Regions from separate parts of the Homo sapiens genome. Here region 2 is linked to region 1. Evidence: fine-mapped expression QTL. A gene starts in region 1. The other region holds a variant in brackets. All regions are shown on one strand. Distances are from middle to middle.

Evidence for each region. PIP is the estimated chance that this variant, and not a neighbour inherited with it, causes the effect.
Region 2: its variant is the best candidate, but not a certain one, in a credible set for the expression of CD180 in whole blood (INTERVAL, PIP 0.76).

Annotation. Positions count from the first base shown.
Region 1 is chr5:67,194,435-67,198,766 of GRCh38, reverse strand. CD180 (CD180 molecule) reads left to right here and starts at 1,968. Exons shown (of 3, transcript NM_005582.3): 1 at 1,968-2,215. The coding sequence starts at 2,126. RefSeq lists an enhancer at 2,995-3,144.
Region 2 is chr5:67,173,341-67,177,739 of GRCh38, reverse strand. No RefSeq gene overlaps it. Among named protein-coding and RNA genes, the nearest start is that of CD180, 21 kb to the left of the region's middle. The variant G/A (reference allele first, on the strand shown) is at 2,520.

The DNA.
Region 1 (4,332 bases):
AGTCTTTTGAATTCATTATGCAAACACATGTAAATCATATGCAAATGATATAGCTTAAGAAAATGACAAAATCTGATGGCCTTAACTGAGCCATCAGACCTTTCTTTAAGAAGGAAAGTAATATGCCTTTCAACATCTCTGGGGCAGGAGACAATTTCCTGAGAGTGATATTTACACGACATTGGAATTCGTTACTCAGTCTTTGCCTCACATTCTGCATATTTATGTGGGACTTTAAGATAAGAAAAGCATTTTCACATACATGATCCTATTTGATCCTCATAATTACTCTGTGATGTAGGCAGAAGAGGAATTATAATTCTTGTTTTTCAGATGGGAAAACGGACTTAGAGAAGTGAAATGACTTGCCCAAGGTCACTCAGTTGGTAAGCAAGGATCTGCGGTCTACCACTAGACTCTTCCCAGTTCTCAGCTCTTCCTAATATACACTGATGGATGTCTTATTTGAAGCAAGGTGGTCCGTCATTGGTCTGGGTTTGCTTAGACTGTGTCTTGCTGATAGCATCTTCAGAGATGATTTTGTTGATGAAGATGGCATTTTAAGGGTGACCAGGAAAAGCCCAAATATGTGTAGCAGGCCTAGCAGACTGCCAAGTACATATTTCCTCCAATCCCCTCTGCTTTTTAGCATCTTTTCTGAAATCTCCAGATGAACAACATTCTTCGCCCCATCTACTCTTCAGCTCCTTCAGGAGGCAAAGTCCTTTCTTAAACTGTGAAGAGTAGCAGCATAGTCTCTGCAGTGAGATTTTCTGGATCTGAAGCCCTAATCTACCACTCTCTAATTGTGTGGCTTGGAGAGATCATTTAATTTCTCTTAAGCATCAGTTTCTACATCTATAAAATGAGGGAAATAATAATATCTCTCTTATAGAATATATGGAAATATTCGAGGATAGGAAAATGCAGCAAAAAACTGCATTAAACCTGACCCAGTGTCTGACACATAGTAAGGACTCAATAAATGGCAGATACTATAGTCATTTGATTCATCATAGTAATACTGTAGAGGTGGTGGTGGTGGTGGTGGTGGTAGTAGTAGTAGTAGCAGTAGTTAAGTCATTGTGAACTCTGATACTAAGAACTGGGCTCTTGGAAATGGAGTGGGAGAACAGTAACACCAAATATATCCTGTATGCCAGAGGGTTGAAGAACAGACAGAACAGGTAGCTAAATGCAGCCTATTGAGGAATGTTTGAACTTTGGCTTTCTTTAATCATTGCCACATCTTGCTCCATAATAAGGGTAATTGTAATCCTGCTTCAAAGCTATTTCTAAGAAGAAATAGAGCCAAGGCTGGCATCCCTAACTCTACTCTCCTTTAGCCAGGCTGCTCTATCTATGGCAGTGTCCCCTACTTCCCCAGGCCAGGTTAGGAGGGAACAAGAGAGTCCACCCCAACTGCTTTAACAAGCCTGAACCGCCAGGTCAAGAGATGAAGTAATCTTCCCCCTATACGAAGACCAGAGGTGGGGATGGACAAGGTGGCCAAGGCAGCAGCTGAGGCTCAAGGAGCAGATACACTCTCAAGCCTGCTCCCTCCTGCTCCAGTTCCCAGCTCAGCAGGTGCCACTGAAGGGCTCAGTTCTTCAGTCTGCCCCTGCAGAGTGCTCTGCCCTTCCATGTTCTCTGACACCTCTTCTATTCACTCACCTAGGACAACTAAGAAAGTGGCCTCCTTGGTGAGTAGAGCTTCCACAGCCTCTCTCGGGGAAAAGGACCAGAAGCTGTTGGAGTTGGCCAAATGCTTGAAGTTGGCATAAAGTCAATTGGAACCATCACAATGAGAGTCTGTGTGATCAGCCCAAAAGGACTGCACAACTGATTCATGTTCAGTGCCAGGAAATGCAACGGGCCATTCTGGGGTTGGGTCCTCAGTTATTTTTGGCAAAGATGGGTGGTATGCAAAAGGGACTTCCTTTTTTTTTTTTTTTTTTTTTTCCAGCACAGAGCCACAGAATGCTGAGCAGTCAACAGCATTTCTTGTTCCAAGATCACCCTTCTGAGTACCTCTCTGGCTGCCAAATTGCCAGGGCCTTCACAGTTTGATTCCATTTCTCAGCTCCAAGCATTAGGTAAACCCACCAAGCAATCCTAGCCTGTGATGGCGTTTGACGTCAGCTGCTTCTTTTGGGTGGTGCTGTTTTCTGCCGGCTGTAAAGTCATCACCTCCTGGGATCAGATGTGCATTGAGGTGAGTCCAAACTGTTTGTCTTTATGCAGATTAAACTGTCTGAAAATTTTGAGATTTAGCACGCAGTCCAATCTGAGCCTTGGCATCCCAATATCTAGTGTCTTTAAAAAGGAAATAAGGTGTATATATAATTTTTTCATTATTGTGAGAAAGGAGCCAAAGAACTCTGCCAGGGGATCATCTGGTGGCATCTTAATAGGAAGCAAAGAGAATTTTTCTCCTCTTCAAACAATTCCACCCAAATAATCCCAAGTGGGTCATAAGATATTAATAGGGTCTGTGTGCACAAAGCAGACCCCTAAACCTGCCTCAACCTAGGGGAGCTGTTGGTTTAACATCCCCACTCTCACATGGCCTCTATCCCAATGAGTCCTTTGGTCTCCTCTCAGGGTGAGAATTAGTAAAGACAGCGCTGTGCCAGGTTTTCGAGCATTGAAAAGATCACTCTGAATGAGTCTGGCTCTCTCTTGGACTTGGACAGCCTTCCATCTGTTTTACTAACCCATAGGAGGAAAATCTGAGAATAGAGCCAAATTGCACCTTCTGTTTTGGACCATAGCAATATTTATCAACCTGTGGGAAGTTCTTGGAGGGGATAATGAGAGAAAAAGGAGAAGGGCCTCCGTCTCTTGCCATCCTCTAAAATGCTTCAAACTTCCTCCCACTTTCTCTGACCCCACAAGTGATCAATACCACGTGGCCTGTCAGACAAGGGCTGCATACAGGAGGAACCATGAGTCTTGGTGGCTTGGTGAGCTGCTGGTCTGGGTTGAGGTAAAAAGAAGAGTAAGAGCCAGGAATAGCCAGATGTGGAGTTGCCCTGGGGCAGGACTAGAAGGAGATCAGAGGATCAGGAAGAGCAGAGCAAAGCCAGCACTGGGGTAAGGCTCAGAGCTGGGTGAGCAGAGCCTTGTTGGTCTGGCATTAGGATGGAATCAGCAGCAGGCCAAGAGGAGGCATCATGCCAATGAGAAATGAAGGCTGGGAAGGTGTGTGTTGCTTTGCTTGGGCTGTCATAACAAATGCCACAGACTGGGCCAGGCGTGGTGGCTCACGCCTATAATCCCAGCACTTTGGGAGGCCAAGGTGGGTGTATGCCTTGAGACTGGGAGTTCGAGACCAGTCTGGGCAACATGGCAAAACCCCATCTGTACTAAAAATACAAATATTAGCTGGGCATGGTGGCACATGCCTGTAATCCCAACTACTCGGGAGGCTGAGGCAGGAGACTCACTCAAACCCGGGAGGCAGAGGTTGCAGTGAGCCGTGATTGTGCCACCGCACTCCAGCCTTGGCGACAGAGCAAGACTCTGTCTTAAAACAAACAAACCAAAAATACACCAAAAAACAAAAACAAACCAAAAAAACCCTGAATACCATAGACTAGGTGACTTAAACAAGAGAAATTGATTGTCTCACAGTTCTGGAGGCTGGAATTTTAAGATCAAGGTGTTGGCAGAGTTTGCTGCTTCTGCACCCTCGCTCCCTGGCATGCAGATGGCCATCTTCTCTCTGTGTCCTCTCATGGCCTTTCCTGTGTGCATGAGCACTGGTGTCTTCTTGTTTGTCCAAATGTCCTCATCTTTTAAGGACTCCAGTCAGATTGGATTAGGGCCCACCTATATGACCTCAGCTTCCCTTAATGACCTCTTTAAAGGCCCTGTCTCTAAATACAGTCACATTCTGAGGTCCTGTGGGTTAGGACTTCAACATATGAATTTGGTGGTGGGGGAGAGAAAATTCAGCCCATAACAGAAGGAGAAGAGTAAGACATTTCTATCAGCCCCAGAAGGCTGTCCCCTCACCCTTCAGGTTGGAAGGTCTGTAATTGCCTGACAAGTTCTTCCTGCCCACTGCCCAGACAAAATCAATCCACTGAGACTACGGCATTGCAGTAAAGAAAGTTTAATTGATGTGAGACTGGCCACGCCAGGTGGGAGACAGAGTTATTACTCAAATCAATCACTCCAAAGTCTTGGAGATTAGGAGTTTTCAAGGATAGTTTGGTGGGCAGGGTACACGGGAATGGCAAATGTTGACTGGTTGGGGAAGAAGTCATAAGGTTTTGGAAAATGGTCCTTAGTTCTGAGTCCACCTCTGGGTGAGGCCGCAGGATG
Region 2 (4,399 bases), 21 kb after region 1:
GTGAGCCACTGTACCCAGCCAATAAAATAATATGTTAACATGGTCATCCATGTAACTTAAACAAGCATGCATGAAAACAATGATACATACATTTTGCAGGAACAAAAGCAAAAAGATAAACCATTAACATAATTGCTTATGGGGTGGTGGTGGAGAATGGAAGGGGCTGTTGGGATAATTAAATGAACCTTAGAATAGGCCAAGGTTGATGTGCCAGGAACAGAAGAGTAAGATGGCCTCCATGGTCTGCACCTGAGGCTCTCTAACAGATTTATTGAAAGAAAGGAAACACATTTATTGAAAGAAAGGCATACCACAGGAAATAAAGTGGTATGGCTCAAAGGTATAATGAGACACCATGCAGCCATTATACATATTGCAGAAGTTTGCTTATAAACATTGAAATATATTTGTTTTAATATTCAAGTGACACTGGCCCAAGAGTTTCATAGACAGTTGCTTTTGGATAAACATAAATATGGACCCTTCTGCTGTAAAAGCTTGAAACATATCTGTTTTATCTGAGTTCCTTTCTCAGGAAATGACCTTCAGGCCTCTCACAAAAAGTATCAAAGAACTGAAACCAGATTGCCACACCAGATGCCCCACCCCTCATTCACTATGATTGCTTCCTTGCCCCTCCCAAGTTCCTGTTTTCTTACACATTGTTACATTTTTTTGTGTGCTATATAAACCCTTGGTTTTAGTTGGTCAGGGAGATGGATTTGAGACTGAGCTTTCTTCTGCTCTGCTGCATCACTCAATTAAAGCCTTCTTCCTTGGTGACACCTGTCATCTCAGTGGTTTGCTTTTTGTGCAGTGAGCAGCAGGACCTAGACCAAACCCCTGGTGTTTTGGTGACACAAGTGGAAGAGCAGAAGAGTGGGCTAAAGAGCATGCCCACTGTTAATTCATTATTCAGCAAAACAAAAAAATACCTATAAGTTAAAGAAACAGAGTGGCTGGTAGGATTTCAGGGATTCAAATACTTTCTTCTCATCTATATTTCCAACATGGCTTCAATGACCAGGTCTGGGCAATAAGGAGAAAAAGGAATTATTTTTTAAGGAAGACTTTTGCTTTTAAAAAGATAAAAAACAGAGATCATCGGTTGTGAGAATGTACAGGTACTGAAAAGGAGGCAGTGTTTTTCTAAGTCTTTGTGTTTTCAAATGCAAATGGTAAAGCCCAAGCTTTGAGGGAACAGAGGGAGCCATAGCTGTTCTAAGGATCCCCATTTGAATGGGGCAGTAGGACATGCATTACATGGGGTGTCCACAGAACTGCCTCCAGCCCCAACAGGAGTAGATATGTCTCCAACTCAGGAAAATTACTTCAGTACAGCACTGTTTAACACAGCATACGTATTCCAAAAGGACAGAACTTTAAGGCAAATGATTTTTATTTAGACAGGTTAAGGCTGGAGGATATGGTGATGCCAGCCTGACATATGCAGACTTTGTAGCTGCAACATGCTTGCTGCAGGCCTTGCAAACATCTTTTCATTCTTCCTTTCCCAGATGTTGACAGCCATCTCCTGGCAGCGCTTAATGAAATGGCAGATGACTATTTGTTAGAGGCTTTCAGCTTTACAAGAGCAATAGACATTTCGTCAAGCTGTGTGGGGTGATAACCTGTAACCATATGCAACAGATCTTTTTCCCATGTCTGGACATACTAAACTGGCATGTCACAGAGTGTACAGAGAACTTCACTCTTGGGACCCATCCCCTTTTTCAAGTGCTTGCCTGCCTACAAGTATTGGAATTGACAGCCCCAACATCAGCCAGTGATGTTGTAAGAGATAGTGATCTTGTCTTTTGAAATGCTGGGTCACAGAAATCAGTGAGATGTTGCTGAGTGTTTTCCTATAAGGAATAGTGCTAATGACTCCAGTGCAGGGTCTGAGGTGTCTCAACTGCCAGAGAACTTCATCATGGGTCAGGCTGATTGGCTTTCAGCATACAAAACGTAATCAAACCAAGGTTTGGCAAAGCCTTGGTCATTTCCAAATTTTCTAGATATATGAGACATGTAGGGGGTAGAGAAAGAGAGGAATAACACAAAATGATTGCTTTGAGGAATAAAAACATCCTGGCAGGAGGGAAATGAAATTTAGAGAACTGCCCTACCATAGATTTTCTTAAAGCCTGGCCTAGAATGAAGGAAGCAAATTTCTGTAGTTACTATAGCTACACGTTTTCATGTTACATTTGTGTTGTGAACCGAAAATGCTAGATGAGAAATTGTCTACTGATTAATTAGAACTGATAAAGAGGCCCTATTACAGAGAACGATTAGCTTCCTTCACTTAACGGTTTCCCACCAATCATCAAATTCATAATTTAGCACCATATGATTTTTCTACATGCAAAGAGGAAATAAGATAGCTTAGATTATTCAGAGAGGGGCCTGAATCTGAATTCAATTACATGACACCTGGTAATACTGAGAAAGGTCAAGCGCTTCAGAACCAGAAAAATTCAGATTCTAATCCAAGCTCTCTTTCCAGGGTGTAT[G/A]TTAAGCAAACGACATAGCCTGGCTGGGCCTGATTTCTCATCTATAAAATGGGAATGGCACCACCGGGTTTGAGAATTGTGTTGATGTTTAAGTCAGAGGGCAGATGAAAAGCTTCTTGCTCAGTACTAAGCACATACATGTGTGCGTGTATACACACATGCTTAGTACTGAGTAGGTATATATGTATACACACACACATACACACAGTAGGTGGACAATAAGTGTTTAGGTTGCTGTCTTCCTGATGGTTTCAATGGTTTTTGAGTTTTCTATGCCCAAGGGCTTAAAAAACACCAATAATCATCGTAGTAGACTTTAGCTGGAGACAAATTTGAGCACGGATGGTAAATATACTCTTATATTACTATTGCCCATGCCTCCCAGATAAGAATCACCTGCCCCTCATGTCCACTGATTATAAACCCAGTTTCTCAGGCCTTGTCCTAGAGATTTTTGCGTGAGTGGATCAGCGATGAGGTCTAGAAACTTGTATTTTTAACAAATATTCCAAGTAATTCTCATCTTCTAGGAAGCTTGGGGAGTAGTGATAACAATGCTTCTCAAATTTTGAAGGGCAAGCAAATTACTTGGCTATCATGGAAATGCAGAAAATCAGCAGGTCCAGGGATGGGGAAGGCAGGGGGTCAGGGGACTGAGATTCTGCATTCCTAACACACTCCCAGGTGATGCAGATGTTGCTGGTCTGAGGACCACACTTTGAGTGGAAAGGGTCCTTAGGGCTCAACTGGACCAGCAGTTATATGGGAAATGTCTTCAAGTTCTGTTCATGATGATTTCATGTTGAGGTAGAATGAGTCAAGTATCATCCTCTACCTGGGAAATTTGTTTTTGCTTTTCAACCTTGCATGCACATTAGAATCACCTGTGGAAGTTATTTTATTATTTTTTAATTATAGATGCCTAGGCCCAATCTTCAGAGATTCTAACTCCCTGGTGTGGCCAGGCAGGGCATTCATGTGGTCAACAGGCAGGCAGCATCTGAGTCATTTGAGAAGAGCTTGTTAGAATTTTCTGCGCTATCATAGGCCTTCTGAACCAGAATTAGCAAGATCCCACATGAATCATGTGCATGTTAGAGCTGAGATGTGCTGCCTCACCTGAAGTCTTCAAGCCAACCCCTTTTCTTCTTGTAAATGCTTGGCAGTTCAGTGCTCAACAGCCAAGGGAAGCTGCCATTGCCCCCTGTGGGAGGGTTAGTACTATTTTTAGAAGTGATTTCTCCCTACTTTAATTCCTATCTCTAGTTCATGAATTCTCTGGTCCTCTTGATAGTCTTGCCCCATGTCCCCACATCATGCCACCTCCAAAAGGCAGAACTTGTAATTTTTTTTTTATTATTAAAGTTTTAGGGTACATGTGCACAATGTGCAGGTTAGTTACATATGTATACATGTGCCATGCTGGTGCGCTGCACCCACTAACTCGTCATCTAGCATTAGGTATATCTCCCAATGCTATCCCTCCCCCCTCCCCCTACCCCACAACAGGCCCCAGAGTGTGATGTTCCCCTTCCTGTGTCCATGTGTTCTCATTGTTCAATTCCCACCTATCAGTGAGAATATGTGGTGTTTGGTTTTTTGTTCTTGCGATAGTTTACTGAGAATGATGATTTCCAATTTCATCCATGTCCCTACAAAGGACATGAACTCATCCTTTTTTATGGCTGCATAGTATTCCATGGTGTATATATGCCACATTTTCTTAATCCAGTCTATCATTGTTGGGCATTTGGGTTGGTTCCAAGTCTTTGCTATTGTGAATAATGCCACAATAAACATACGTGTGCATGTGTCTTTATAGCAGCATGATTTATAGTCCTTTGGGTATATACCCAGTAATGGGATGGCTGGGTCAAATG